Linked DNA regions of Homo sapiens: all the other regions are linked to region 1. The links come from fine-mapping of genetic effects on gene expression. A gene starts in region 1. Each other region holds a variant in brackets. All regions are shown on one strand. Distances are from middle to middle. Region 1 holds the start of ACADS (acyl-CoA dehydrogenase short chain). Region 2 has its middle 21 kb from the start of ACADS. Region 3 overlaps SPPL3 (signal peptide peptidase like 3).

The links. PIP is the estimated chance that this variant, and not a neighbour inherited with it, causes the effect.
Region 2: its variant is fine-mapped to the expression of ACADS in testis (GTEx, PIP 0.97).
Region 3: its variant is fine-mapped to the expression of ACADS in thyroid (GTEx, PIP above 0.99).

What each region holds. Positions count from the first base shown.
Region 1 is chr12:120,722,180-120,732,085 of GRCh38, reverse strand. It overlaps ACADS (acyl-CoA dehydrogenase short chain), which reads right to left and starts at 6,260. Exons shown (of 10, transcript NM_000017.4): 1 at 6,155-6,260; 2 at 4,897-5,060. The coding sequence starts at 6,200. It overlaps UNC119B (unc-119 lipid binding chaperone B), which reads right to left. Exons shown (of 5, transcript NM_001080533.3): 5 at 8,446-9,906. MIR4700 (microRNA 4700) reads right to left here and starts at 8,893; the gene lies at 8,820-8,893. RefSeq lists a silencer at 5,941-6,450 and an enhancer at 6,087-6,588.
Region 2 is chr12:120,741,979-120,751,884 of GRCh38, reverse strand. No RefSeq gene overlaps it. Among named protein-coding and RNA genes, the nearest start is that of ACADS, 21 kb to the right of the region's middle. RefSeq lists a silencer at 3,965-4,180. The variant G/C (reference allele first, on the strand shown) is at 4,543.
Region 3 is chr12:120,763,708-120,773,480 of GRCh38, reverse strand. It overlaps SPPL3 (signal peptide peptidase like 3), which reads left to right. Exons shown (of 11, transcript NM_139015.5): 7 at 4,422-4,528; 8 at 4,993-5,156; 9 at 5,888-6,087; 10 at 7,109-7,218; 11 at 8,411-9,773. The coding sequence ends at 8,482. Among named protein-coding and RNA genes, the nearest start is that of ACADS, 43 kb to the right of the region's middle. RefSeq lists an enhancer at 1,679-2,179. The variant C/T (reference allele first, on the strand shown) is at 6,206.

The DNA.
Region 1 (9,906 bases):
AGGTGGGGAAAAGATTGAGAAATCGGATGGTTGCTGTGTCTGTGTAGAAAGAAGTAGACATGGGAGACTTCATTTCGTTCTGTACTAAGAAAAATTCTTCTGCCTTGGGATGCTGTTGATCTATGACCTTACCCCCAACCCTGTGCTCTCTGAAACATGTGCTGTATCCACTCAGGGTTAAATGGATTAAGGGCGGTGCAAGATGTGCTTTGTTAAACAGATGCTTGAAGGCAGCATGCTCCTTAAGAGTCATCACCACTCCCTAATCTCAAGTACCCAGGGACACAAACACTGCGGAAGGCCGCAGGGTCCTCTGCCTAGGAAAACCAGAGACCTTTGTTCACTTGTTTATCTGCTGACCTTCCCTCCACTATTGTCCTATGACCCTGCCAAATCCCCCTCTGCGAGAAACACCCAAGAATGATCAATAAAAAAAATAAAATAAAATAAAATAAATACAAGAATTAGCCAGGCGTGATGGTGGGCGCCTATAATCCCAGCTACTTGGGAGGCTGAGACAGGAGAATCATTTGTACCCAGGAGGTGGAGGTTGCAGTGAGCCAAGATCGTGCCACTATACTCCAGCCTGGGCAACAGAGTGAGACTCCGCCTCAAAAAAAAAAAAAAAAACTATTTTATTAAGGAACACCTCTGCTGCTGGACAATACTCTACCAAGTGCTAGAAATACGCAGGTCTCCAGCTACTCAGGAGGAGGTTGAGGCAGGAGAATCACTTGAGCCCAGGCGTTCAAATCCAGCCTGGCCAACATGATGATACCCCTGTTTCTAAAAGAAAATTTTTTAATTAAAAAAATTTTAAAAAGAGGGTGTGGTAGCTCAGGCCTGTAATCCCAGCACTTTGGGAGACGGAGGTAGGAGGATCATCTGAGTCCAGGCGTTTGAGACCAGCTTCATCAACATGGCGAGACCCCCATCTCCACAAAAAGTTATAAAAATAAAAATAAATGAGCCAGGCATGGCGGTGCACACCTGTGGTCCCAGCTACTGCAGGAGGTGAGGCATGAGGATCACTTGAGCCCTGAGCCCGGGAGGTCAAGGCTGCAGTGAGCTGTGTTTGTGTCACTGCACTCCAGCCTGGGCGACAGTGAGGCCCTGTCTCAAAAAAACAAAAACAAAAATAAATATGCAGTTGTCCAAGACTCACGGTCAGGCCTAGGCATGAACCTCACCAAAAGCCTTTTTCTCTAGCTTACCAGCAAAACAGAATAAGGCTAAACTAGCTCAAGCCGCCTCACCCTCCAAGCACCTTCAGATCTCCCTGGACAGAGACACACCCTCCTTTTCACCCCGGAACTTGTTGGTATAAAACCCTGGAATAAATGGCACATGAGCCAATCGCTCCATAACTCCATCTCATCCCCAGAAACACAGTGGGAACCCAAATTCCCAGAAAGAGAGTAAAAGGATGAAACTCTCCTAGGTGCGTTCAGTTCCTCATACTCACCTAAAATGCTTGGTCACACGTCCCGACAGGTAGCAGAATGAGGGTGACCCCATATTCCTCTTACAGATGAGGGAATTCACACAGAAAGGGTATGTGGTGTCAGTGGCCAGGTCTAGGCCACCAGGAGGCAAGACAGAACCCCAGCCTCCTCCTCCCTACACAGCGCCGCCTCCCTCTGACTAATGCGACACTTCTCAATGAGCTAGAATCAAAAGTTGTAGGAATTCACAATTCCCACACCCAAAGGACCTCACTAGCATATACCATCGCCCTCAATTTTCCCCCAGCTCCTGTCTTCCCTCCTTTCTCACCATCAGCATTTTCTTTTACAGCATCTACCAGCTGGGCGCGGTGGCTCATGCCTGTAATCCCAGAACTTTGGGAGGCCCAGGCGGGCGGATAACAAAGTCAAGAGTTCGAGACCAGCCTGGCCAACATGGTGAAACCCCGTCTCTACTAAAAAGACAAAAATTAGCCGGGTGTGGTGGTGCGCACCTGTAGTTCCAGCTACTTGGGAGGCTGAGGCAGGAAAATTGCTTGAACCCAGGAGGCAAAGGCTACAGTGAGCCGAGATCGCACCACTGTACTCCAGCCTGGGGACAGAGCGAGACTCCATCACACACACACAAAAATAATTTAAAAAATAAAGCATCTACCTGTGGCTGTGAAAGACATGGCAGTTCCACTCACTCCCACTCTGGTGTTGAGACAGCAAATTTCAAAAGAGAGGAGCACCGCTCTGGGGCAGCACCTAAGAGCACAGCCTTCTCCATCCCATCCCAGAGCCTGGACACAGTCACCTCACCCCATTTTATCAGTGGTGACAGGGGCTGTTTCCCAGGCCTTCTCACTCTGAAATTTATCTCTAGATTTCAGGCAACAAACTGTGGCCAGCTACAGGAACATTCTAGAAAAAAAGTGGGGACAAAAGCAATAACCATGGTAATGTGCACTCGTTAAAGGGCCTCCTGAAAAAGAGACAGGGAGACCAGCACCGAGGGAAGGAAAAAGGGGTGGCAGGAGAGGGAAGAGACGAGACAGTCAAAAAGGAGAAACCCAAAATATAATTAAGCAGTGGCTCACACCTGTAATCCCAGCAGTTTGGGAGGCTGAGGCAGCCAGGTCACCTGAGGTCAGGAGTTCAAGACCAGCCTGGCCAACATGGTGAAACCCCATCTCTACTAAAAATACAAAAATTAGCCAGGCATGGTGGCGGGCACCTGTAGTACCAGCTACCTGGGAGGCTGAGGCAGGATAATCACTTGAACCTGGGAGACAGAGGCTGCAGTGAGCCAAGATCGCACCACTGCACTCCAGCCTGGGGGACAGAGTGAGACTCCATCTCAAAAAAAAAAAAAAAAAGAAAAAAGAAAAAGAGAAGCAGTCAAGGGAAAAAAATGGGTTCGGGTTTGTCCATCGTTTCTGACCTATGTAAATTGATGGTAATTAACTAACAGCAGCCAGGCGCCCGTCCCAGCCCCAATATTTTAGTATTTTCTACAGAGAGGCCTGACCTTCAGAGCTATCTCAAGGGGTGGCCTCCTAGAGCCCCCTGCAATGGTCACTCTTGGTTCCTAGTGTCTGTGACCCAGCAACCCTGACCTGCACCCTGAGAAGAGGCAACAGCACTGATGAGGCTGAGCCTGGTGGTCTCCAGACTCCCAAGAGAAACCGTAAGAAACTGTAAGACCCCTTTCCCAGCAGTGACAGACAAGGCAAGCCTGCAGCACCTGCTGCCTTCATATCTGGGAAACGGTTAGTGGGTCCCTCATATAAAAACAATGTTTTACGTCCCTTTTAAAACTCATTTTTAAGGCCGGGTGTGGTGGCTCACGCCTGTAATCCCAGCACTTTGCGAGGCCGAGGCGGGTGGATTGCCTGAGCTCAGGAGTTTGAGACCAGCCTGGGCAACACGGTGAAACCCCGTCTCTACTAAAATACATAAAATTAGCCGGGTATGGTGGTGTGCGCCTGTAATCCCAGCTACTCGGGAGGCTGAGGCAGGAAACAATTGTTTGAACTCAGAAGGCGGAGGTTGCAGTGAGCCGAGATCGCGCCACTGCACTCCAACCTGGTGACAGAGCAAGACTGTCTCAAAAAATTTTTAAAAATAAAAAATAAATTAAAATTAAAATTAAAAAAAAAAACAGGCAAGGAGAAGAGGCCGGAGAGGTTTGACTTTTCACAAATCATTAATTAAACAACTATCTACTACTGAGTGTTTACACCAGGTGCTGGACATCTTTAGGTCAGCGTGTACGGCAGTAACATCTTCAACGCGTAGCTGCAGACAGACTGAATGCAAATGGAAGAACACAGTGGCACGGGAGGGAGCGCGCTGATGGGAAACTCAGGGGAGAAAACAGTTCAAGCAGGCCGGGCACGGTGGCTCACGCCTGTAATCCCAGCACTTTGGGACGCCAAGGCGGGCAGATCGCCTAAGGTCAGGAGTTTGAGACCAGCCTGCCCAACATGGAGAAACCCCATCTCTACTGAAAGTACAAAAACTAGCTGGGCGTGGTGGTGCCCGCCTGTAATCCCAGCTACTGGGGGCCGAGGCAGGAGAATTGCTTGAACCCAGGAGGCAGAGGGGTGCAGTGCGTTGAGATTGCGCCACTGCCCTCCAGCCTGGGCAACAGAGCGAGAGTCCATTTCAAAAAAAAATAAGTAAATAAAAAAGAAAATAGGTCGAGCAGGCTGCCGCTGATGAGCTCCATGACCTTGGGTATGTTATTTAACTTGTTCACAAGTCTGAGTCCATGGGGTATATAATAATACTACCTTTGGCCGGGCGTGGTGTCTCACACCTGTAATCCCAGCACTTTGGGAGGCCGAGGTGGGCAGATCACCTGAATTCAGGAGTTTGAGACCAGCCTGGCCAACATGGTGAAACGCCGTCTTTACTAAAAATACAAAAGTAGCGGGGCAGAGCAGTGCACGCCTATAATCCCAGCTACTTGGGAGGCTGAGGCAGGAGAATCACTTGAACTCAGGAGGCAGAGGCTGCAGTGAGGCGAGGTCGCACCATTGCACTCCAGCCTGAGCCACAAGAGTGAAACTCCGTCTCAAAAAAATAAATAAGAATAGTACCTTCACCTCACAGGACCGTTGTGAGGAACAGATGAGATAACCCATCTCAAGAACAGTGCCTAGTGCATGCCAAACACCCTAAAGGCACTATTTAGAATGAGCACAGTGGCTGGCACAGTAAGCAACTGACCATCCACCACATATTACTGTTGTCCCAGAAGTTAAGTCCTGGCTACTGGCCACAGGCTGGACAAGGGAAACTTCCAGAGCATTTTCTGGGTTCCAGGCCCTGCTTTGGGGTTCCTCTACCAGAGTCCGAGTGCCGCTGACTGTCACTGCCACCATTCATCCAGTAGCAGAGGGCAGACCACTATCGTGGGCTGCTGAGGTTGCACTCTCACCTGAGCCGCTGGGAAGAGATGTTCCTTATCCACCTGGGCTGCAATGGGAAACAACTCCTTCTCGGCAAAGTCCCGGCATGTCTGGAGCAACATCTGGTGTGTCTCGGGCAGTTCCACAGACTGGTAGATGGTGTGTAACTGCCGCCAGGCCCTAGGACAGAGAGCTGCCGGCAAGGGCAGAAGTGAGTGGAAGGAGGAGGCAGGAGGTCTCCAAGAATCCTAGTGACCCACTAACTCACCAGGGAGGATTTTGCCCTCCAAGGGACATCTGGCAATGTCTGGAGCCAGTTCTAGTTGTCACAACTAGAGCAGGGGAATACTATTGGTACCCAGTGGATAGGGGTCCGGGATCCCTGCTGAACATCCAACAAGGCAGAGGACAGCCCCCACAACAAAGAACTGTCAGCCCAAAATGTCCATGGCGGCCACTGAAAACCCCATACTAACTGAATGCTTAGTACACTCACTAGACATTTCCATACACTACATCCTTCAGTCCTCAGTATAATACCAACAGTAATAAGACCTCAGCTCTGTGACCTTAGGCAAGGGTTTTAAACGTCAGTGAGCCTCCGTTTCTATAACAAGTGGAGGCGAATAGTATTCCGCTCCTCGGAGTGCGAAAGAAAGACTAACTAGCGCTTAACACAGTTCTCAGTAGCGTTCCCCTTGTAATTCAGGCCAGGCAAAGGAAGCCGTGGCTATATGTGTCACGGCTGCTACAACTGGAGACACGTAAGATGGGAAAGGTACTGTATTAACCAGCAAGAACGAGCATTTGTGGAACACCTGTTACACGCCAGGCACGAAGTGCTTTACATACCCTATGATTTAATCCTCCCAACAACTCTGATTTTCTCTGTGGACATTTTACACATGGGCCAACCGAGGCTGAGGAGGGGCTGTCTTGCCCAAGGTCACAGATGCGGGTCTGGTTCAATCCCAGGCCTGGCTCCGGAAGAAGGACGCACCCTGAACCTCTAGTGGGGGTGAAATGAAGGGAGGGAGATATGGGAACTGGGAACTGGGCTGGTGGCTGGGGTCAATCGGGGGGTAGGGGTCTGTGCAGGAACCAGGGACGCCTGAAGGGCCGGGCTGGGTCGGCGCAAGGAGCAGCAGAACTGGGGCAAAGGCCGTGAGCGCTCCCGGAGTGGGGCTCCGCCTGCCAGCGGCTCTGACAGAGCCGGCCGCCAGGACCTCCGCCCGCTGGGCCAGACGCGGGCTGAAGCCCCGCCGTACGGATCCCCAGCGCACTCACCTCTGCGGGCAGGGCCCGAGGCCCGGGCGAGCAGCGCGGCGGCCATGGGCGACAGACACAGTCCCAGGCTTCGCGACCTCCCGCTGCGAGCGCGCTGTTCCGGAGTGCTGGGGGGCGGGACCCGGGACAGAGGCCACGCCCGTAGGGCCTCGGGAGCGGGGCCGAGGTGCGCTCGCGGCCAGGGGGCGGGGCCTCCAGTGGTCCCTCCCAAGGCGAGGAACCGACGCTCGACTGCGCGCGCGGTCGGTCAGCTGGCTGTTCGTGCCCACATTCGTTAATCAAAATGCTAACAAGAGAAAGCTAAGGATAGAGCTTCGCAGAAAGGCCAGAGAGGTCTTTTTAAAGCATAAATAAGATAGCGATCTTCGGGTTAAAACTTTGTTGGCTTTGTCGGCGGGCCCATCCCTCCTAAAATCCAATTCTATGGCTTAAAAAGCCAAGACCTGCCTTGTCTATCAGGGCCCATGCCCACCGTTCCCTGGTTATTGTTGCTTAGCTTTACGAGGCAGCTCTTCTCTAAGACCCTTAGCTGGTTCCTGACTCGGGGCCTCTGTGATCACTGTTCCTTTTGTCTGGAATGCCCCCTCTTCGTTTAGGTCTCATGGATGCCTGCCCTGACCACACCAAGCCGTTTCTCCCCCTCTGGCTCTCTATCTTTCGTTCTGTTTATTCAAGGCACTTTGCATCTGAAATTATCTGCTTCCCCGACTCGCTCCGAGAAGCTCAAGGACCTGTCTTGTGTTGGTGCTCAATATTTAGGCCCCTGGAGTTGGGCTGCAAGGAAAGCTTTCTTTTCCCCAGAGGCTGTGAAGGTGGGTGGAGATGCTACCCCCGTTCCACTTCAGTACTGTGTCTCATTCCCGATTGGGGCAGAACCCAGACACATATTTGACCCCTAGCATCCTCATCAGGACACCTTTGCCCCGCCCAAGAAACTATGCTGATTTTACTTGTCCCATAAGGGTCTTCTCTTGTGCAAGTGTGATTCTGATTCCCATAGCCTCCTGGGCACCACCCACGCCCTCCCAGGCACCCACACATCCCTCCAACTGCCTTTCTTTCCCAGCACTCAGCCAGGCAGGCATCTGTTCCCAGCATTGACCTATTTGCCAAAACTTCTGTCTCTTCCTCTTGGAGGAAAGTGGAAACCTCGGTCACTACTTCCTAGAAGAAAGCCAATCAAAAGATGCAGCAAAGTCCTTAATGTGTTACCTTTCTTTTTAAATAATGCATTTAAAAGAACGCCTCTAAATTCTCAGTACTTTAAAGTCAAATGAATGGCTCCCATTGGCAAATGCTCTAAGGGCTTCCTCACCTTTCCGTCATCCCACCTGGGAACCAGCCCTGGGTGGAAGAAACGATGAAGAAGCAGGAGAAAAGGGAGAAATAAGTGAGTTGTGTTTGTGAGCAAAGGCCAATAATTGCTTCAGGTGCCACAGAGCATCTAAACCAGACTCTTGAGAATTTGTGACTGTAAATATGAACGTTCAAATTTCATTTTAAAAGTATCCAAGTTTTCCAATAGAGACAGAATCAGATAGTGGTTGCAAGAGGCGAAGTGGGGGAAGTCACCTGGCTGCAAACACAAGGAACTCAGGAACTTTCTGAGTGGGTACGATGGAAATGTCCTATATCATGATTGTGATGGGTAATAAAAGTATTCATTTGTCAAAATGCATCAATACTCTTAATTGAGGTAAATTTTACTGTAGTTAAAGTATTTCTTAATAAGCCTACCTTTATGGCCAGCCACAGTGGCTCACACCTGTAATCCCAGAACTTTGGGAGGCCAAGGCGGGTTGATCACCTGAGGTCAGGAGTTCAAGACCAGCCTGGCCAACATGGGGAAACCCTGTCTCTACCAAAAATACAGAATTAGCCGGGCGTGGTGGCATGCACTTGTAATCCCAGCTACTTGGGAGGCTGAGGCAGGACAATCACTTGAACCCGGGAGGCGAAGGGTGCAGTGAGCCACCATCATGCCATCACATCCCAGCCTGGGAAAAAAGAGCGAAACTCCATCTCAAAAAAAAAAACCCTACCTTTAAAACATGCATGTAAACTTTCAATTTACAAAGCCACTCACCCTGGGAAAATATAAAGCAAAAATATTAAGCCTAAAGTCCAGTACAATTCCTCAATCACCCTAGAAGCCAGCTATACTCTAGTTCAACTACTTACAGAAGGGCCACATAATAGCCAAAGTAAGAGAAACCTGGAGCCCCCATTCGCCCCTGCTCCCCTCAGCAACACAACGGGCCCAACAATCAGGAGACAGGACGAGGGAGACGTACTGTGAAAATCTTTCTTTTATTACTGTCTCATGTGGCAAAATAACATTTTATACAAATAAGTCACCTAGTTTACTTTGGACACAAAGACAATAAAAACTGGAATGTGATTTTGGGGGAAGCGGGAAGGAGGAGGAAGGACAGATCAGGTCATTGATGTTTCTTATATTCTGTAAAAAATAGATTTACAGGAAAAAAAATAGACTTTCACAACTTCAATGACTTTACACGGTCCTTTGTAAAACCAGTGGTAAATCCACCTCCACCAAATCCTTCTTGAGGCTGATATGTTCTGTGACATGGAATGTGAGTAACACAATGGTTCAATGATTAGGCTCCTACACCAGGTACAGCAGCACCTGATGCCACAGGAATCCTCGTGCACTGGGGTGAGGAGTCAGTCCTGTGAATTTCAGGACACACTGTCCTCATCCCCAGACCTCACTGACATCATAGTGACACTGGCCATCAGAAGAAAGTGACTTTACAGAGGGGAAAAGAGTATCCTGGAAGCGTACCGGTGGGGCAGGACACACTAAGGCAGGACTCACCCAGTTTGTACATTAGACACAGCCTATTAAATCCATTCCAGAAATGAGTTCCACTTCAACTGAAAAAATAAACTGAAGATTGCCCAATCACTGCCATTTCACAAATTTCCAGTTTATGGTCAGCCCCAAAATCACATTCTTCCACCCTATGTATTGGAAATCAAATGGCCCAAAGACTGAGGTGTCTTCAGGAAGCACATGCTTGAAAAATGTTTTCTCTGCAAAACAGTATTGAGTAATACATAAGGAGACATAGCCTACTTTAGCCCAAAACTTCTTTCACTTGTTATGTCCTTTTACCTCTTAAAACATAGAATGAAATAAACTCGGATCTTCTTTGGAGAAGCTAGAAGGGCATTTTGGCCCAAAGGCTGTACAGGAAAAGAGAGGCTCTCTCCAGGAGACTGCAAGGCAAAGGAACAGAAGCAGGAGGGGCAGGCCCTCTGGCACCAGGTGGGCCTGCTACTCTGATGAAATGTGCTCCCAGCTCTTGACAAAGGGCAGGGTCTCCTATGCAGGTAGTTTTTTTGCCGCCTCCCATTGTATCACCCACAAGGTAACTGCTATCAACAGTTCAGATTCCTTAATAACATGGCAGCCTGAATGGTTCTGTTACTTTCAGAGAAAGTATGCCTTGCAATTCTCTCCCCAACTCAGGTACAAACGCTTGAATTTCAAACTCATACTGGTTTACACCCCAGAGTGGAATGCTTCTCAAGATTTCCTGAGCAGCTAGACACAGGAACCCACAGCCCCAGATACAGAACACCAGACTTTCAGAAGCAGCAAAGCCCTGTCCTGCTGGGCATGGACCAAGCACTATCCGCAAATGGTCTCCAGTGAGACTAAGGCAAGCTAACAAGGAAGAGGATACAGCACAACTCAAGCCAGATTGCCCACCTCCTCCTTC
Region 2 (9,906 bases), 20 kb before region 1:
ACCATCTCTCTGAGTCAAATGCGCCAAAGGCTTCCTTGTCACTTCCAGGACAAGGCAGAAATCTATGTGACCCATAGGACTGTACCCGAGATGGCTGTCCGCCTCTCCAGCTCATCTCACGCCGTGTTCCCGCTCCGTCCTCCAGCCATTCTTCCATTCCTTGAAGACCATGCTCTCTCCCACCACAGGGCATCTGCACAAGCCATTTCCCAGGCCTGGGCTGTCCATCTCTAGGCTCTTTGTCTCATTCACGCCAACTCATCCCTCAGATCTCAGTTCAGCTGTCACCTGGTCAGGGAAGCCTTTTGTGACTCAGCATTCCAGCTCAGGTTCCTCTATTTTAGTCTCTCCTAGAACTCTGCTCCTCTCCTGCGTTGCACGCATCCCATTGAGGCTGCGATGTGATTAGTGTCTGCCACTAGCACCACCAGCACTAGCTTGCCTGCAAGGACTGTGAAAAAAGGAATTGTTTCTGCTCACCCACTGTTTCTCCCAATGGTTTGCACAGTATCTTAGATATAGTAGCTGCTGCAATATGAATGAATGAATCAGAATAAAATTATCAACATTCGTTCAATTTTATTAATCTCTACCATCATACAAAACATAACCTTTTCAGTTCTCATGGACTCTTGATGGAAACGGACCATGTATTCGATTCTCACAAGGCCTCATATTCAGAAAAGTGAAAACAACTGACCACCTTCTCTCACTACCACACAGTGTGACTGGGAAGAATTAAGAAAAGAAACTGCCAGGCGCAGTGGCCCATGCCTATCATCTCAGTATCTGGGAGGCCAAGGAGGGAGGATCTCTTGAGGCTAGGAGTTTGAGACCAGCTTGGGCAACATAGCAAGACCCCGTCTCTACAAAATAAATAAGTGTGTCACGGTGGCGCCACCTGTAGTCTCAGCTACAGAGAGGCTGAGGCAGGAGGATCTCTTGAGCCTAGGAATTGGAGGCTACAGTGAGCAGTGATCACGTCACTACAATCCAGCCTGAATGATAGAGTGAGACCCTGTTGCTTAAAGAAAAAAAAAAAAAAACTGGAATCCAAAATCAACAAGGGTTCAGGCATAGTGGCTTATCCCTATAACCCCAGCACTTTGGGGTTACAGGAGGATCACTTGAGCTCAGGAGTTTGAGATCATCCTGGGCAACATAGTGAGACCTCCATCTCTACTAAAAATTTTAAAAAGGCCAGGCGCAGTGACTCACGCCTGTAATCCCAGCACTTTGGGAGGCTGAGGCAGGTGGATTGTCTGAGGTCAGGGGTTCGAGACCAGCCTGGCCAACATAGTGAAACTCCATCTCTACTAAAAATACAAAAAATTAGCTGGGCATGGTAGCGGGTGCCTGTAATCCCAGCTACTAGGGAGGCTAAGGCAGGAGAATCGCTTGAACCCAGGAGGCAGAGGTTGCAGTGAGCCGATGTTGTGCCATTACACTCCAGCCTGGGGGACAAGAGCAAAACTCCATCTTAAAAAAAAATAAAATTAAAGAAAATTAGCTTAGTGTGGTGGTGTGCACCTGTAGTCCCAGCTATGTGAGAGGCTGAGGCAGAGGATCACTTGAGTCCAGCACTTTGAGGCTGCAGTGAGCTATGATCATGCCACTGCACTCCAGCCTGGGTGACAGAGCAAGACCTCATCTCAAAAAAGAAAAAAAAACAAAAAACAAGGGCTTTGTCTTTTTCTCTGCTGTATCTCCAGCACCTAGAATAAGTGCTCAATATACATTTTTGAACAAACAAATAAGAATAGAAAAATAAAATCGATGATCTGCTCAAACATAGGAGTGTCAAAGTAGGAAAATAGGAGAGAAAAGAAAATTAGAGGTTCGACCAAGAAAGTACAACATCAGACTTCTAGGAATTTAGAAAGCAAACCAAAAAAAAAGAGTGAATCAAGCTGGGTACAGTGGCTCACACCCATAATCCCAGCACTTTGGGAGGCCAAGATGGGAGGATCACTTGAGCCCAGGAGTTTGCGACCAGCCTGGCAACATAGCAATACTCTGTTTCTACTAAAAATAAAAAAAAATTAGCCAGGTCTGGTGGCAAATGCCTGTAATCCCAGCTACTCGGGAGGCTGAGGTGGGAGGATTGCTTGGGCCCAGGAGCCTGAGGCTACAGTGAGCCATAATTGTACCACTGCACTCCAGTGCGGACAACAGAGCAAGACCCTGTCTCAAAAAAAAAAAAAAGTGAATAAAATTATCAAAGAAATAATGTAATAGTTCCAAGAATTAAAGAACATGGAGGAAAAAAACATGGATCTCTAGATGGAAAGACCCACCACGTGCCCAGCTAAATGAATGAAAAATGACCCACATCAAGGTGTTCTGGTGTTCTGGTCAGTAGGTGGCATAAATAGATCCCAGCCCAGCGTGGTGGCTCCATTGCTAAAGATCTGATCAGTGGTGACCTGGGAATGTCCTGGAGGAGGGAATGCTGTGGCAGCTGTGATGATGCAGAATTTGAAGGCTATCCAGGGTGGAGGTGGGACAATGCCAGGGAAAGTGCCGAGGTGGCTGCTCACTGCTCAATCGTCCTGATGCTCTATCTGCAGCAAGTGAGAAACTGAGAACTGTGAACAAGCAGTTCACGGCTAAGTGTGAGCACCAGAGAGCCTTGGTATCGAGGAGTGTAAAAAAAGGCTTTTTTTTTTTTTTTTTTGAGACAGAGTCTTGCTCTGTCGCCCAGGCTGGAGTGCAGCGGCACCATACCATTCCACTGCACCCTCCGCCTCCGCCTTCCGGGTTCAAGCGATTCTCCAGCCTCAGCCTCCCAAGTAGCTGGGATTACAGGCGTGCACCACCACGCCCGGATAATTTTTGTATTTTTAGTAGAGTCAGGGTTTCACCATGTTGGCCAGGCTGGTCTCGAACTCCTGACCTCAGGTAATCTACCCACCTGGGCCTCCCAAAGTGCTGGGATTACAGGTGTGAGTCACCATGCCCGGCCTGAGTGGATAATCTATTGAAAGAACTAACGAAGTTCTTCAACATAACCAGATAAACAGAAATAAAAACGAAATATGTCAGCAATAAACAATTTTTTTTAATAGTGGGTGACTTCTGGTTTGCCCCAAGGTGGTGAACTAGCATATAGGTTGTTGGCTTCCTGCCTTAGCCAAAGCCTGAGTGCTATAGAGATTAAAGGAAAGCATATTGATTCAGGGAACTAAAGATCAGAAGAAAATTCTAGGGAGAGAAGGCGGTTGTGAGCAAATGTAGAGGGGAGCACAGCAGACCTGAGTGAGGCAGAGCTGGGGGCTATGGCGGATGAATCGGGACCCCTTCCTACTTCAGTTATTAACTAGAAGGATTCACATGACCTGATGAGGTTATATCACAGCTAAGGTTGACTAAGCGAAGGATACACCACGGGACCAGAGAGAAAGATACACATAGACAAAGTCCAGGGAGGCCGAGAGCAGGCTGCACGGTGTGTTTCTTTCCAGGTGTGAACCACAGAGATGTGAGATGTCTCTGCCCAGGGAAACACCCAGGTCTCAAAACCTGTTGTTCTAAGAAGATGGTCACATAGGCACTTTCCTGCCACATGACCAGCCATGGTAACCAAAACACAGCACTCCAAAACAGAGGCCAGACGCACATCCTAAGTTTTTTTTTTTTTTTTTTTTTTTTGAGACAGAGTCTGTCTCTGTCCCCCAGGCTGGAGTGCAGTGGCACGATCTTGGCTCACTGCAAGCTCCGCCTCCTGGGTTCACGCCATTCTCCTGCCTCAGCCTCCCACCCCCGGCCCCGAGTAGCTGGGACTACAGGCGCCCGCCACCACACCCACCTAATTTTTTGTTTTTGTTTTTAGTAGAGACGGGGGTTTCACCGTGTTAGCCAGGATGGTCTCGATCTCCTGATCTTGTGATCCGCCCGCCTCGGCCTCCGAAAGTGCTGGGATTACAGGCGTGAGCCACCGCGCCCGGCCGCACATCCTAAATCTTGATGTTAAACATTCTGACATCTGACAGGCTGCTCATCCTGCCCCAGTGCACCAGGCCTACAGATTAACATTCATCAGTAACTACATGCACCTTCCAAGAGTTTCCTTCTCAGCTTGTCCCAGGTCAGTGCCATAGCTCCAGGCACTCCCAGAGAGCAGCAAAGACTGAGTAAGCCAGGCCTGCTCACAACAGAAACGCAGACTGTGGAAACCCTTGGCCTTTCCTCTTGCCTCTTTTAGAACTCTCAATAGAGCCATCTGGGCCAGATACCGTGTTTTTTTTTTTTTATTAAAAAAAAAAATACTGAGCTGGAAGCATTAATGTCCACCTATTTTAAGTGTACAGCCTTCGTGACTCTTTCCACATGACTATACCTGAACCACCACCACTCGGATCAGAATATAAAACCTTTCCAGCACCCAGCAAGCTTCTCTTGTGCCTCTTGTCAGTGGCCCCCAAGGTAACCACTGTTCTAATTTCAGTCACCACAGATTAGTTTTGCTTGCATTTGAAATTCATGTAATACAGTGAATACATTATGAAGTCTTGACTATAAACTTTTTTGAGACAGAGTCTC[G/C]CTCTGTCCCCCAGGCTGGAGTACAGTGGTGCAATCTCGGCTCACTGCAACCTCCGCCTCCCGGGTTCAAGCGATTCTCCTGACTCAGCCTCCTGAGTAGCTGGGATTACAGACATACGCCACCACGCCCAGCTAATTTTTGTTATTTTTAGTAGAGACAGGGTTTCACTCTGTTAGCCAGGATGGTCTTGATCTCCTAACCTCATGACCCGCCTGCCTCGGACTCCCAAAGTGCTGGGATTACAGGCGTGAGCCACCATGTCTGGCCTACCTTTTTTTAAATTTAACTTTGTTTGCTTGTTTTGAGATGGGGGTCTCCTTATGTTTCCCAGGTTGGTCTCCAACTGCTGGAGCATCCTCAAGCAATCCTCCTACCTCAGCCTCCAAGTAGCCAGGGTTATAGGTGCACGCCACTGTGCCCAGCTTTGAGCCTAACCTTTTTTGCTTAATGTTACATTTGTAAGATTCAGCCATGTTAGCAATTTATGGTCAGTAGTTCATTCTTTTTTATAGTTGTATGTATGCTCATTGTTGGAATACAGCATTTCTCCTCAATAATTGTACCAATTTACCCTTCCGCCTGCTCTGAGAGGCAATTCCAGTTGAGTTACATTTCCACTGACTCTGTTAGGAGATGCCTTTTGTGGGGACAAATGTTTAACTCCTTTTCAATTTGTTCTAGTCTTACTGGTCTGTTTTTTGTGTTTGTTTGTTTTTTCTGCCTTCTCTAGAATCAATTCTGTGTATTTGTTTTCCTGGAAGATAAATCATTTATGTAGATTTTAAATTTCATCAGCATGAGTATGATAGTTTTTTTTTTTGTTTGTTTTGTTTTTTGAGACGGAGTCTTGCTCTGTCGCCCAGGCTGGAGTACAGTGGCACTATCTCGGCTCACTGCAACCTCTGCCTCCCTGGTGCAAGCGACTCTCCTGCCTCAGCCTCCTGAGTAGCTGGGACTACAGGTGCATGCCACCATGCCCAGCTAATTTTTGTATTTTTAGTAGAGATGAGGTTTCACCATGTTGGCCAGGCTGGTCTCAATCTCTTGACCTCGTGATCCTCCCACCTCAGCCTCTCAAAGTGCTGGAATTACAGGCGTGAGCCACCGCGCCCGGCTGAGTATGATAGGTTTTGGTATGCCATGTTTTCATTTTGTGTATTAAATATAAAATACACAAAAATCAAATTGTATTAAAATCTCGTACCAAAAACATGAGTCCCCTGACTCGCCCGTCTCACTTCCTCGGACTCTTTTAGTATTTATATGTTTATCTTTTTTTTTTTAAGATGGGGCCTTGCTATGTTGCTAATGCTCACGTGAGCGTGGAAGGGAACGGAGTTTCAGATGAGACTGCAGTCCCTTGCTTTCAGTTTGTGAGACCCTGGACAGAGCATCCAGCTAAGCCACGCCCAGACTCCTGAACCATGAAAACTATGAGATGGGTTTGTTTTTTTGGTTTTTTTTTTTTTTTGGTTTTTTGACAGGGCCTTGCTCTGCTGCCCAGGCTGGAGTGCAGTGGTGTAATCTCAGCTCGCTGTAGCCTCGAACTCCTGGGTTCATGTGATCCTCCTAATTTAACCTCCCAAGTAGCTGGGAGTACAGGCATGCATCACTGAGCCTGGCTAATTTTTTTTTTTTTGTAGAGACAGGGTCTCACTATGTTGCCTAGGCTGGTCTTGCATCCCTGGCCTCAGGTGATCTTCCCTCCTTGGCCTCCTGTGTAGCTAGGACTCTAGATATGCGGCACTGCGTCCAGCTAATTTATTTTTTATTTTTTGTAGAGATGGGCTCTCCCTGTGTTGCCCAGGCTGCTCTTGAACTCCTGGGCTCAAGCCATCCTCCCACCTCGGCCTCCCGAAGAGCTGAGATTACAGGGCTGAGCTGCTGTGCCTGGCCCTTTAAGATGGGTATTTCTTCAAGCCACTAAGCGTGTAGTGATGTGTTGCTAGAGTAGAAAACCAATACCAGTGTAGCGTCGCTTTCTCATCAGCTCCAGCCTGTCCCCAGCTGGGTGACACTGGGCTTCGACCGCAGTCATGGGCCCGGCAGCCAGGAGAGGAGGTGAGGGCCGCTGCAGAGGGGCACCTGTGGCCTTGTTGGGAGCGGCTTCCGCAGACTCTTCCAGTAGCAGAAGCCCTCACCTTCCTATGGAGAGGCAGCCACCCTCTGCACCCTGGAGAGTTTGGGCTGGAGAGCAGCATCAGGGGCATCCGTTCAGATGGCTCCGTTTTCCGGATGCCAGGTTTTCCTTCCCACGCCCCTGCCCTTGGCCTAAGCAATCTGCCGGGGCTGAGTCTTCAGGCTCTGGAGCTCTGCAAATTCCTGTTAGGTCTCTGGCCTGCCTGCACCATGTCTGCCCTTCTGCTACACATAAGAGCCTTTTTTTTTTTTAACCTGATACACAATAATTGTACATATTTATGGGGTACGTGTGATATTTTGATCCATGCATAAAATGTTTAATGATCAAATCAGGGTAACTGGGTATCCATCACCTCAAACATCTATCGCTTCTTTGTGTTGAGAACATACTAAATCTTCTAGTTGTTTTGAAATATACAAAAAATACTGATAACAATAATCACCATATTGTGTGAACACTAGAACGTATTCCTTCTACTAAACTGTATTTTTTAAAATTTTCTTTTCCTAAGATGAGTCTTGCTCTGTTGCCCAGGCTGGAGTGCAGTGGCACAATCTCCACTCACTGCAACCTCCACCTCCCAGGTTCAAGCGATTCTCCTGCCTCAGTCTCCCGAGTAGCTGGGATTACAGGCGCACACCACCATGCCTGGCTAATTTTGTATTTTTAGTAGAGATGGGGTTTTGCCATGTTGGCCAGGCTGTTCTCGAACTCCTGACCTCAGGTGATCCACCCGCCTCCGCCTCCCAAAGTGCTGGGATTACAGGCGTGAGCCACCGCACCTGGCTGAACCCATTTTTTAAAAGGGAAGGCTGGGTGCGGTGCGTTACGCCTGTAATCCCAACACTTTGGGAGGCCAAGGCGGGCCGATCATGAGTTCAGGAGATCGAGACCATCCTGGCTAACACGGTGAAACTCCGTCTCTACTAAAAATACAAAAAATTAGCCGGGTGTGGTGGTGGGTGCCTGTAGTCCCAGCTACTCCGGAGGCTGAGGCAGGAGAATGGCGTGAACCCAGGAGGTGGAGCTTGCAGTGAGCCAAGATCACACCACTGCACTCCAGCCTGGGCTACAGAGCGAGACTCTGTCTCAAAAAAAAATAATAAATAAAGGGAAAACCACACACTGTATGAGTCCTTTTGCAACCAGATATCTGACAAATGATTAGTATCAAGAGTAAACACGTGGGACAATTACAAATCAATTACAACCCAAAGAAGAAACAGACAATAGCAATTCACAGCAGAAACCAGAATGACCAATCACCACGTGAAAAGACGTGCAGTTTCTCAAGAAACCAGGGAGATGCAAGTTAAAATCACAACCATATTGAAGAACGTTTGTAAAATCTGTGGGTGCCAAGGAACGGGGAGAATGCGCGTCATCAACCCTCGCATATGCATAGAGGGTGATCCGACCACTGATCCAACCTCTGGAGGGCCATTTGGCAATATCTGGCGAAGCTGAAGAAATAAACAGCCTTAAGGCCCAGCAAGCCCACTTCGATTTAAATGCTCACAAGTTCTCACATTAGAAAAACACACATGCCAGAATGTCCACTGCATCATGGTTTATAGAGTAAAAAGCAGGAAACTACCTCAATATAGTTTATCCCATGGGACACCATGCAGCCATCCACATAAATGAACTAGAACTTCACGTATCAACATGGAAAAACCAAATTGCTAATATTCAATCTTCATAAAAAGTAACTTAGTGCCGTGAAGCACATCTCAACAGATTTCAAAAAATTCAAATAGTGCAGAAAATGTGCTGAGACCACAATGCAATTAAGGTAAAAACCAGCAACAGTAGGTATGGAGTTTCCTGCTGGGGTGATGAGAATGTTCTGGAACTAGATGGTGGCAATGGTTGCATAACATGATGAATGTCCTAATGCCACTGAGTGTACACTTGAAAATGGTTAAAACTGTAAACTCCGTCACAGTTTTTAAAAATCATTAACAAAAAATACCTCAGAAAACCCCATATTAATAAAATAATACTCTTTGGCCAGGCATGGTGACTCACACCTGTAATCCCAGAACTCTGGGAGGCCAAGGCGGGCAGATCACTTGAGCCCAAGAGTTTGAGACTAGCCTGGGCTGGTCACATGTTTAGTAGAGATGGTGAAACCCCATCTCTACTAAAAATACAAAAAATAGCCAGGTGTGGTGGCGCCTGTAGTCCCATCCACTTGGGAGGCTGAGGTAAGAGGCCCACCTGAGCCTGGGAGGTCAAGGCTGTGGTGAGCTGCGATTATACCACTACACTCCAGCCCAAGCGAGAAGAGACCCTGTCTCAAAACATAATAATACTCTCCTAAATAACTGATAAATCAAAATAGAAAGCACAATGGGCCTCAGAAAACTGAGTAATAAGGAAAATATGACACTAAAATGTATGAGATGAAGCAAAAGCCACACTTAGAAATGTATGAATTCAGGCCAGGCATGGTGGCCCACGCCTGTAATCCCAGAACTTTGGGAGGCCGAGGCGGGCGGATCACCTGAGGTCAGGAGTTCAAGACCAGCCTGGCCAACATGATGAAAGCCCGTCTCTACTAAAAATACAAAAATTAGCCAGGCGTGGTGGCGCATGCCTGTAACCCCAGCTACTCGGGAGGCTGAGGCAGGAGAATCGCTTTATCGCTTGAAACCGGGATGTGGAGGCTGCGGTGAGCCGAGATTGCGCCACTGTACTCCAGCCTGGCAACAGAGCGAGACTCCATCTCCAAAAAAAAAAAAAAAAAGAACCAAAGCATGGAGAACTTGTCCCAGAGGGCTAGAGGGAAGGAAACAGGTGGCCTCTCAGCTACATGCAATGCAGGCCCCTGGACCTTGAGAAGAGCTGACTTCGCAGACACCGTGCCAGCTGGCACAATCCGAGTGGAGTGTGCAGATGTGAAAGTTGACCAGGGTGGGAAACGGTCCTGTTGTTCTGTAAGTGAACGTCCTTGTCCTTAGGAAATCTACACTGAGGAAACTGTATCCAGAGGGGCATGGGCTCTAGGACAGTTCGGGCTCCAGTGGCCCGGGGGCAGAGTCCACATTCAGTTCTAAGTTAGGAGGAGCTTCCACTAACGGGCAGCACCCCGTCAAAGCCAAGGGTTTGTGCCGACTCTCCCTCACCGAAGGACAGACCCCGGACCCACGACGGCACCTCAAAGCCCCCGAGTGCACAGACTGGCTCTTGGGTCGGAGCCTGGGTTGCTTCATCT
Region 3 (9,773 bases), 41 kb before region 1:
CCGCAGACTCCTGTCTCCCGTCTGTCCATCCTAGGCCTTCTGTTACTTTCTTCGTGCCCTTGATGCCTTGCATTCCATGTATTCACCTGTAAGTCCATGAACAGATCACCCTAGCCAGTATCTATACACAAACCTGTGTCTCACCTGTGCTCTGGCCCGATGGGCTTCCCACCTGCTGCTGACCACTGTTGTTCCTCCAGCCAGATGAGCTGCTCCCTGGTAATGTCCTGGTTATTGACTCATGACACAACCAAATCTTTGTTTCCTAAAGATGATGATCATGGGAGGTCCTGTCCTTTCAAATATGCGTGTGAGTTGATCAGAGCAGGGGCTCTGGGTACATCTCTCAGTGTCCTAAACATCATGTTTCAGTCATCCCTTTGCAGCTCTGAATGCTCTGAGCTTTGTCAAGCCTCACTGACTAATACATTTCATTAGGTTCATTTCAAATGACATGCATTTGTATACATTTTACCAGGTTGGTTGTATGAATTTATTTAAAAATTAAAGGAGACCTTAGTATAATAAACATTCTATATGATTATAAAGTCAGGAATTAGATCTTGACCACATCTCTCCAGAACTCACACTGCAGCTCACCCTGTAACTCAGTGAGCGCTTGATAACAGTGATGATAGTGGAGATGAAGATATATATTTTGCTCTTCCTAGGTTGAATACTGTCTTTCCAACTCCTCTGAGTTGTAGGGATGAGGCAGCTTTTTCTCCTCTGTGTTTATATTAGCACCGTGCACACAGTAGGAACCCATGAAACAGTAATTTAGTTGATGTGTCCAGGGTCTGCCAAGCTGCTGTATTTATCCACTTTATTACATATATTGACAATTTACCACCAGTTCTATGAAAATGAAATATATCTGTTCATATGGCTTTTTACTTTCCTTAGAATAATTTGAAATTTGAAGTTAATAGAACACAGTTTTGCATTCATTCAGCAAGTATTTATTGAATGTCTACTCTGTCAAGTGCTAGGGATCCACAGAAAGAATCAGACATGGTTTCTGTTTCCCAGGAGCACGTGGTCAGCTAGCACAGGGAATAAACTTACCAGTATGTAAATATTCACAAGGTCATAGAATGGATGAGTGAGTTGAGAGACATTCAACGTTCTATGGCACATCACATAGAAGAAGCAACTGGGCCGGGCGCGGTGGCTCATGCCTGTAATCCCAGCACTTTGGGAGGCCGGGGTGGGTGGATCACCTGAGGTCAGGAGTTTGAGACCAGCCTGACCAACATGGTGAAACCCTGTCTCTACTAAAAATGCAAAAATTAGCTGGGTGTGGTGATGGATGCCTGTAATCCCGGCTACTCGGGAGGCTGAGACAGGAGAATCACTTGAACCCAGGAGGTGGAAGCTGCAGTAAGCTGAGATTGCACCATTGTACTGCAGCCTGGGCAACGAGCAAAACTCTGTCTCAAAAAAACAAAAAAAGAGCAGCAGCAACTGACTGGTTGGATCAGGAAAGACTCTGAGAAAGGACTCCTGACCTGGCTCTTCCAGAATGAGGATGGATTTTCCATATGAAGGAGCCGGGGGCAGGACCTTCTGGGTAGAGCGTGAAAAGAACACAGTATGTGTGGAGAGCGGGAAATTGTGTTGAACTGTCTAGAAAACAGAGCCACAGGAATGCGTGTTGAGGGCTTGGGCTGTACAGTGGAGAGTGCCCTCCCTGGCCAGGGAGTTGGACATTCATCCCACCACAAGACCCCATGAAGAGTTTCTCAACAGCTCTGTGTCCTCATCAAACCTGTGTTTGCAGAACAGTGGAGGAAGAGAGCTGAAGGAGGGGAGAGGCCCTGCACCTGCCAGGCCCTGGCCTAGACTACAAGGGTGAGCACTGAGCCATGCTCTCGGGGAACCTTCACTGGAGTTGAGGGCAGTGAGAATGTTTAAAAAAAAGAAGAAATTATGTATATCAGAAGTTGAGAAATGAAAAATAAGACAAGGGCAGGAAGTATGATCTTAAATGTAATTGCAGGAAAGTCCACCTGTCATTGAGAAGCTAGTACTTGCGTGAAGAACTGTGAAAGACGAGGAGCGGAGCCAGTTGGGTTCTGGGAGGAGATCGTTCAGGCAGAGGGCACAGTAAATGCAGAGCACTGAAGCGGCGGCGTGGCCGAAGCGGCGGCATGGGGGGTAGAGTGAGGAGGCTGCTGTGGCTGGCAAAGGAAGTAGCAGGAGGTGACCTGAAGGGTCACCGTCACAGCAGGACCTTGTCAGCCAGTATGAAGACTGTGGCTTTTACTCTATGGGAAGTTGTTTAAGAGTTTTGAGCTAGGGGCCCCATAAAACCTGCCTTAGGGTTTAAGAAGCTGCTTCTGTCTGCACTGTGAAGAAGAGACTTGTTAGGGGTTAAGTTGGAGGCAGAGAGGCCAGGGAGGAGGTCATTGCAGCAATGCACGCCAGGAGAGGATGGCGGCTTAAGCCAGGCAGGGTGTAAAAGAGAGACGGGTCAAAAACGACATCACAGATTTCCGTCTGCACAATTGGAAGCAAAGAGTAAATGCTTGGAGACAGAAGACTGCACTGTTAAGAGCTGAGTTTGGACATGTTAGATTTGAGAGGCCAACTAGACAGCCAAGTATATATGTCTCTTAGGCCACAGGATGTATGAGTCTGGAGCTCCAAGAAGAGATTCAGGCTGGAAATTAAAATGTGTGAGTTGATGACATATAAGATAGATAGTGTCAAGAGCCTTGAGATTGGACGAGATCACTGAGAGAGGAAAAGATCTGAGGAAAGGCCCGTGGAGTTCTGGGAATTGAGGAGGAGCTACAGAGAAGCCTGAAAAGGCCAGTGAGTGGGGAGGAACAGGAGAGCACATTGTCCTGAGAATCAAGGGAAAAGGAGGGAGCCATTAGCTGGGCGGGTTGCTGCCTAAAGGTCGGGTAAGAGGAGGACAGGTCGATTACTGTGTCTAGCAATGAGGGGATCCTTGGCAAGCCCCCAGGAGCAGTGTCAGTGGAGTAGCAGGGATGAAAGCCCTGCTGGAAGTGATCGAGCACTCAAATGATAACATCTAATTTATGGGAAATATATGGGATAGAGGAAAAGCCAACCACTGCAATAGAGAAGCACAGAAAAATCCAGATGACTCCAGTTTCAGCAAGTCATTAAAAAAAGGACTTTAGGCTGGGCATGGTGGCTCACACCTGTAATCCCAGCACTTTGGGAGAACAGGGTGAGAGGATTGCTTGAGATCAGCCTGGGCCACATAGCAAGACCTCATCTCTACAAAAAATACAAAAATTATCCAGGTGTGGTGGCACATGCCGGTGGTCCCAGCTACTCAGGAGGCTGAGTATTGCTTGAGCCCAGGAGGCAGAGGCTGAAGTGAGCCAAGATCGCATGACTGCACTCCAGCCTGGGCAACAGGGCAAGACCCTGTCTCAAAAAAAATAAAAGTGGTGGGGTGGACTATGTCAGATTGGAAACCAGCACAGACAAACCATCTGCAAAAGATGTTTTGGGGTCTATAGAGAAATTTGATTAAATGAGGTGAAAATTCACCCAAATGGAAACTGGGGGTTGTTGGCTTTGGTGGAGGGGGGGAACAGATTGTGTGATCTCATTAGATTAAAAAAAAAAAGTATGTAAAAAATTATTGGCTGGGTGCAGTGGCTCATGCCTGTAATCCCAACACTTTGGGAGGCCAAGGCAGGTGGATCACCTGAGGTCAAGAATTCGAGACCAGCCTGGCCAACATGGTGAAACCCCATCTCTACTAAAAACACAAAAATTAGCTGGGCGTAGTGGTGGGTGCCTGTAATCCCAGCTACTCGGGAGGTTGAGGCAGGAGAATCATTTGAACTCAGGAGACAGAGGTTGCAGTGAGTCGAGATTGTGCCACTGCACTCCAGCCTGGGTGATACAGCGAGACTCCATCTCCAAAAAGAAAAACAAAATTCTAGGAAGATATTGAACAGTGGTAATCTCTGAAAAGTGGGAATGTAATTTTTTTATTTTGCTTTACTGTATTCTCTAGTTTTCTATAACGCAGTTAATGAATTGCTGGGATGATGCCTCCAGTGAATGAAAGGGGGTGCTATCTAGGGTGTGAGTTCACTTTAAAGCAGGGAGCAAGGACAACACATCCACAACATTGGAGGGAAGGCAGGAAAAGAGAGCTTGGAGGTCTTGGACTGGTTTCCTGGGTCTCCAACAGCCGAGCACTATGTCTAGGAGGAGGAAAGCAATCACCCCAAATTCCACAAGTCCAAACAGGCTGAAGAAGCGGGTGTTTTGCACCAGTTGCATGTAAGTTTCTGAAGCTGGAGCTTAGGGCTGCCTGATTTTTGAGGGAATTGCAAACTCTGTGAAGGGCCATAGCTTGTGGAAAGAGGATGAGCCTGGAGTCCACACTGACTGCTGTCTGCTGTACCCTGTCTCCTCCCCAGCACTGGCCATGGGCCTCTGTGTCGCCATGATCGCCTTTGTCCGCCTGCCGAGCCTCAAGGTCTCCTGCCTGCTTCTCTCAGGGCTTCTCATCTATGATGTCTTTTGGGTAAGCGTTTATGTCCTTGGAGCTCCTCCCCTTCTTTGTGTTGAAGTGAAGCATTCATGCCTGAAAACTATTAACTAGAAGTATCCAAAGTCGGGCTTGCCCAGCTGCTGATCACTCTCTCTCCAGTCCTTAACTGTATCATGGGTGTGCAGTCCGATCCTTTTGTTTGCTGAAAAGTCGTACAGTAGGTAGTGTGTGTGTGTGACTCCTAGGATAGAAGAGGTAACAGGCTGACAAGATTCGCTGCAGTGGGGGCCACCCCGTCAGGGAGTAATCTCTGGGTGTGGAGAGTGCAGAAATTGGCAAGTACACAGGAAGAGCAAAGATTTTCTCAAATCATACAGTCAACGAAAGCATTGCAGTCACAGCATTCTGAGACTCTGCTCTTAAGAGCAAGGAGGGCTGATGCTGAAAGCAGGTTGCTTCCAACTCCCTCTGTTAAAGGCATCTCTCCAACTCGGCAGGTATTTTTCTCAGCCTACATCTTCAATAGCAACGTCATGGTGAAGGTGGCCACTCAGCCGGCTGACAATCCCCTTGACGTTCTATCCCGGAAGCTCCACCTGGGGCCCAATGTTGGGCGTGATGTTCCTCGCCTGTCTCTGCCTGGAAAACTGGTCTTCCCAAGGTAAGACCTCATGCTATGACAGGACCACACTGTCTTCCTGTGCCTATCTGTTCCCGGCCTTGATCAGTCTCTAATGTCATCAGCATTCTGATCCCAACCTGGGGCCATTATCTCCATGCTGCAGAAGAGGAAATGAGGATGAGATTCTTGGCTTGCCAAGAAGGATCACTGAGTGATCCAGGCGGTGCCTTTTATTATTGATTAATGTCAGCAAACAGCCATGCCTTACTGCTGTTTCCACTGTTTAGAGTTGGCTGGAGGGAGTTAGGAGAATCTCGATCCTTTTAACTTGTAAGATATTTATAAAAATAAGTTCTAATGGTAGAATTATACAACTCCTGGTAATATAATCTTGGCAGAATGAATGTGCTGCTTTAATCTTCCACCTGTAATAGTAGCCAGGTGCTTATTTGAAGTCTCAACAGTGAATGTGTCACAAATGATGAATTGTTTGACATTTCTAGAGGAAGCAGCACTTATGCAAATCACTTCAGCAGTCACTTCCAAGGGGCTCTCCTGAAACAGGGGGGCCAAGGTGGAGACCTCTAGTGCCAGTACTGTTGCAGCTTTTTCTCTCTACACTCTTAAAACTAATGTTCCATCAGAAGAGATTTCCATCTGCCATGCAGATAAGCTCTTTGACTCCTTAAAAAGCTAACAAACTTTGCACAAAAGGAATAGAAACTGGATTGTAGAGTGTGACGTCACTAACCTGTGAAACTGCATTCCAGCTCCACTGGCAGCCACTTCTCCATGTTGGGCATCGGAGACATCGTTATGCCTGGTCTCCTACTATGCTTTGTCCTTCGCTATGACAACTACAAAAAGCAAGCCAGTGGGGACTCCTGTGGGGCCCCTGGACCTGCCAACATCTCCGGGCGCATGCAGAAGGTCTCCTACTTTCACTGCACCCTCATCGGATACTTTGTAGGTAAGAGAACCAGAGAGACTGCAGATGATCCTCGCTCTGGCTGTCCTCCAACCTTTGGAATTAAATCAGGTCTTCTAGCTACAGTTACTGGATGGAAGGAGAGCAGGAATTCTGGGTG[C/T]TGTAATAGACAGCCTGGCCCGTGAGATGCTAAGTGTTTTGTGTACTGGATAGGCCAGTTCCCTCTCCAGCTGTGTATCTGAAGAACGTTGTAGGAAAAGCAGGTCAGTCCTCAAAGCCAAGGACACACAGCACACAGTGCAGTGGATTAGTCTGTGCTTAAATCTTCCTCTAGAGTTGAATGACTGTCGTATTTATTTCCTACTTTATTCAATAGATACTTACTTACATTCATTAGTTCTACATTTCTGCCACTCTGACCTAGGCCAAGTTTTGTAGCCAGCTCATGTGTAGGCAGACAGGAGATGATTGTGATGGGGCTGGGAAAAGCAGTAACCTGCCCGCACATGCAACTGCTCCCGCACAGTGACTGGAAAGGAGCTTTTGCACTCCGTACGTCCTCCTCAACCCCAGCACTGTCCTCGTCCCACAGCAGTTCATTCACATGGGTTCATTTCAGTCCACAAACTCAGAGGGGCAAGGCAAGTGGCATTATCCCCATTAGACAGATGAGCAAGCTGAGGCTCAGAGAGGTGGAAGGTCTGAACTACATTTATGTTAGCTATTGTGAGTAGCAGAGTTGGAACTTGAACCCAGGTCTTCTGCCTCCCAAGTCCAGCATCACAGGAGACAGAGGCACACTTGGAGCTGGAAGGAGGGTTTGAACCCAGGAACCTGAGCAAGGAGTGAGACTTGGGTCAGTCATGTGTCCTTGGAGTTGTAGGTGTTTTTTAAAGCTGTGCTGATCCACATTTCTTCAACTGCCCAAGCTGGGCATTTCACACCCCAACCATAGAATGGACGACAGCACATTAGATCTGTACAGTTGCAGGACTTTGCCCAGCAGCAGCCAGGTGACACGGGTTCCCTCTCGTGTCTCACAGATGCCTCTCTCTCCTCACAGGCCTGCTCACTGCTACTGTGGCGTCTCGCATTCACCGGGCCGCCCAGCCCGCCCTTCTCTATTTGGTGCCATTTACTTTATTGCCACTCCTCACGATGGCCTATTTAAAGGTGAGAGCAGCAGTTATAAACCTGTGAAAGCAATAACTTGGATTGGCCTGTGCCTCGGTTTGCACTCTCCTCGCTGGAGGTGATTCTGCTTAAGCCCCTGAGTGAGCTTGTGATCTCGACTGTGTGTGTGTGTGTGTGTGTGTGTGTGTGTGTGTGTGTGTGCGCGCGCGCGCTACCCTGGCGTTAGCAAACGCTTCCAGATTCGTGCAGCCACTGACAGAAAATGCTGATGAGCTAGACCACTACACCACCTGGTCGAGGAATAACTAATTGAAAGCCCCAGAGCCCAGCTGAGGGTACTTCCTGCTTCTGTTCAAAGCAGTGCCCTCCTGCCACCTAACAGCTTAACACTACGTTAAAGTTTGGGAATAATTAAGATTGAATAGTGTTGAGGCAGCATATGATAAAACCAGAGTTCAAGAGCACATTATTTCCCAGATATCTATTCTCAGCCCCGTTTTACAGATGAGGAAGCAGATACAGAGGTCAACTTACTTGCCCAGCTCACTTGACTCACTACCTCTAGAGAGTTGATAAAAGCCCTTTTCTTGCTCAGGGAGCCTAAAAGCACCCCTTCTAGGGAGTCCTCCTAAAAATAGTGGGTTATTTTTGAATGGGTAAGATTTAAATGCTCTTTGGTTTCCCACAGAAGCAATCTGATCTCAGATCAAGCATCAGAAAGGGGCCAGGGGCATGGTGGCTCACGCCTGTAACCCCCGCACCTTGGGAGGCTGAGGCAGGCGGGTTAAGAGTTCAGGACCAGCCTGGCCAATATGGTGAAACCCTGTCTCTACTAAAAACACAAAAATGAACTGGGCATGGTGGTGAGTGCCTGTAATCCCAGCTACTCAGGAAGCTGAGGCAAGAGAATCGCTTGAACCCAGGAGTCGGAGGTTGCAGTGAGCTGAGATCTCGCCACTGCACTCACTCCAGCCTAGGTGACAGAGTGAGAACCCATCTCAAAAAAAAAAAATATCAGAAAGGGGCCAAGCGCAGCAGCTCATGCCTGTAATCCTAGCACTTTGGAAGGTCGAGGCAGGAGAATTGCCCGAGCCCAGGAGTTTGAGACCAGCCTGGCCAATATATAGGAAGACTTCATACCTGGAAAAAAAATTTTTTTTTTTTAAAGAATCAGACAGCTGTGTGTGCCTCATGTTTAAATCTGTAACTTAGAAAGTCCCTTGTTTCCCAGGGCGACCTCCGGCGGATGTGGTCTGAGCCTTTCCACTCCAAGTCCAGCAGCTCCCGATTCCTGGAAGTATGATGGATCACGTGGAAAGTGACCAGATGGCCGTCATAGTCCTTTTCTCTCAACTCATGGTTTGTTTCCTCTTAGAGCTGGCCTGGTACTCAGAAATGTACCTGTGTTTAAGGAACTGCCGTGTGACTGGATTTGGCATTTAAAGGGAGCTCGTTTGCAGGAGAGAGGTGCTGGAGCCCTGTTTGGTTCCTTCTCTTCCTGCGGATGTAGAGGTGGGGCCCCTTCCAAGAGGGACAGGCCTCTCCCCAGCGCGCCTTCCTCCCACGTTTTTATGGATCTGCACCAGACTGTTACCTTCTGGGGGAGATGGAGATTTGACTGTTTAAAAACTGAAAACAGCGAGGAGTCTTTCTAGAACTTTTGAACACTAAAAGGATGAAAAAAATTAGCAAACCGAAGTTTCTTCAATGACCCCTCGAGAACTTTGGGACCAGTTTCCTATAGGGGACTCAGTTTCAGAGAACTGAGACAGAAGCTCTTCTGTCGTTATATTCTTCTTTCCTTTTTTTGGATTTATTAAATATTTTCTGTGGTGTGAAGTGACTTATTAAATCCACAGACATTGAGTGACTTCTTACAACATCCACATAAGAATTTGTTGTAATGAGTTCATGTCCACCCAGATGTTGTGTTGGCAGTGAACAAGGGCACGGTTTTTATACATACGTACATATATATATATAAACACACACATAGATATATATGAATAAACAAAAATGAAATCCTGCTAAGATCACGCTGTGTAGCTGACAGGGGCTTGCTGTCGTTTTGAGCATGTCGAGCAGTTTACTGTGGCTTCCTTGTATATGGATAAGCTGCTGTCCTTCCCCTTCACAACTGACCCCGCAGTTACAAACTAGTATAGCATTTGTGCTGATTGATGATAGACTCATGGACTTCAGGAGCCCTTACTTGGTTTTGATCAGTGTAGCAAATTAGGGATGAAGAGTTCAAACCTTTTGGCCCTTTCTTTCTTTTCTAGGCTTCTCCCTCGCAGGGTGTTCCGTAGTTTCTTCTCGAGCCAATGCATGTATTATAGCAGCAGGTGTCTTTGTGCTTTCTCATCATAGTAACGTACTACTTGTAAATACATTTTTCTATTTTCTATTTTTTTGTATTTTTTTTTTTGACATTTTGTTTCATTGGTGTGCTGTATATTTTCCATGCCCTCACTCCTTTAAGAAAAAAAAAAAGGAAAAAAGCAACACAATCCTGTCCTTGCTGTTGTGATTATAGTCTTGGTTTACCTGTGGTGACAACCGGGTGTTGGGGACACATGTCAAATGCCCCTCTG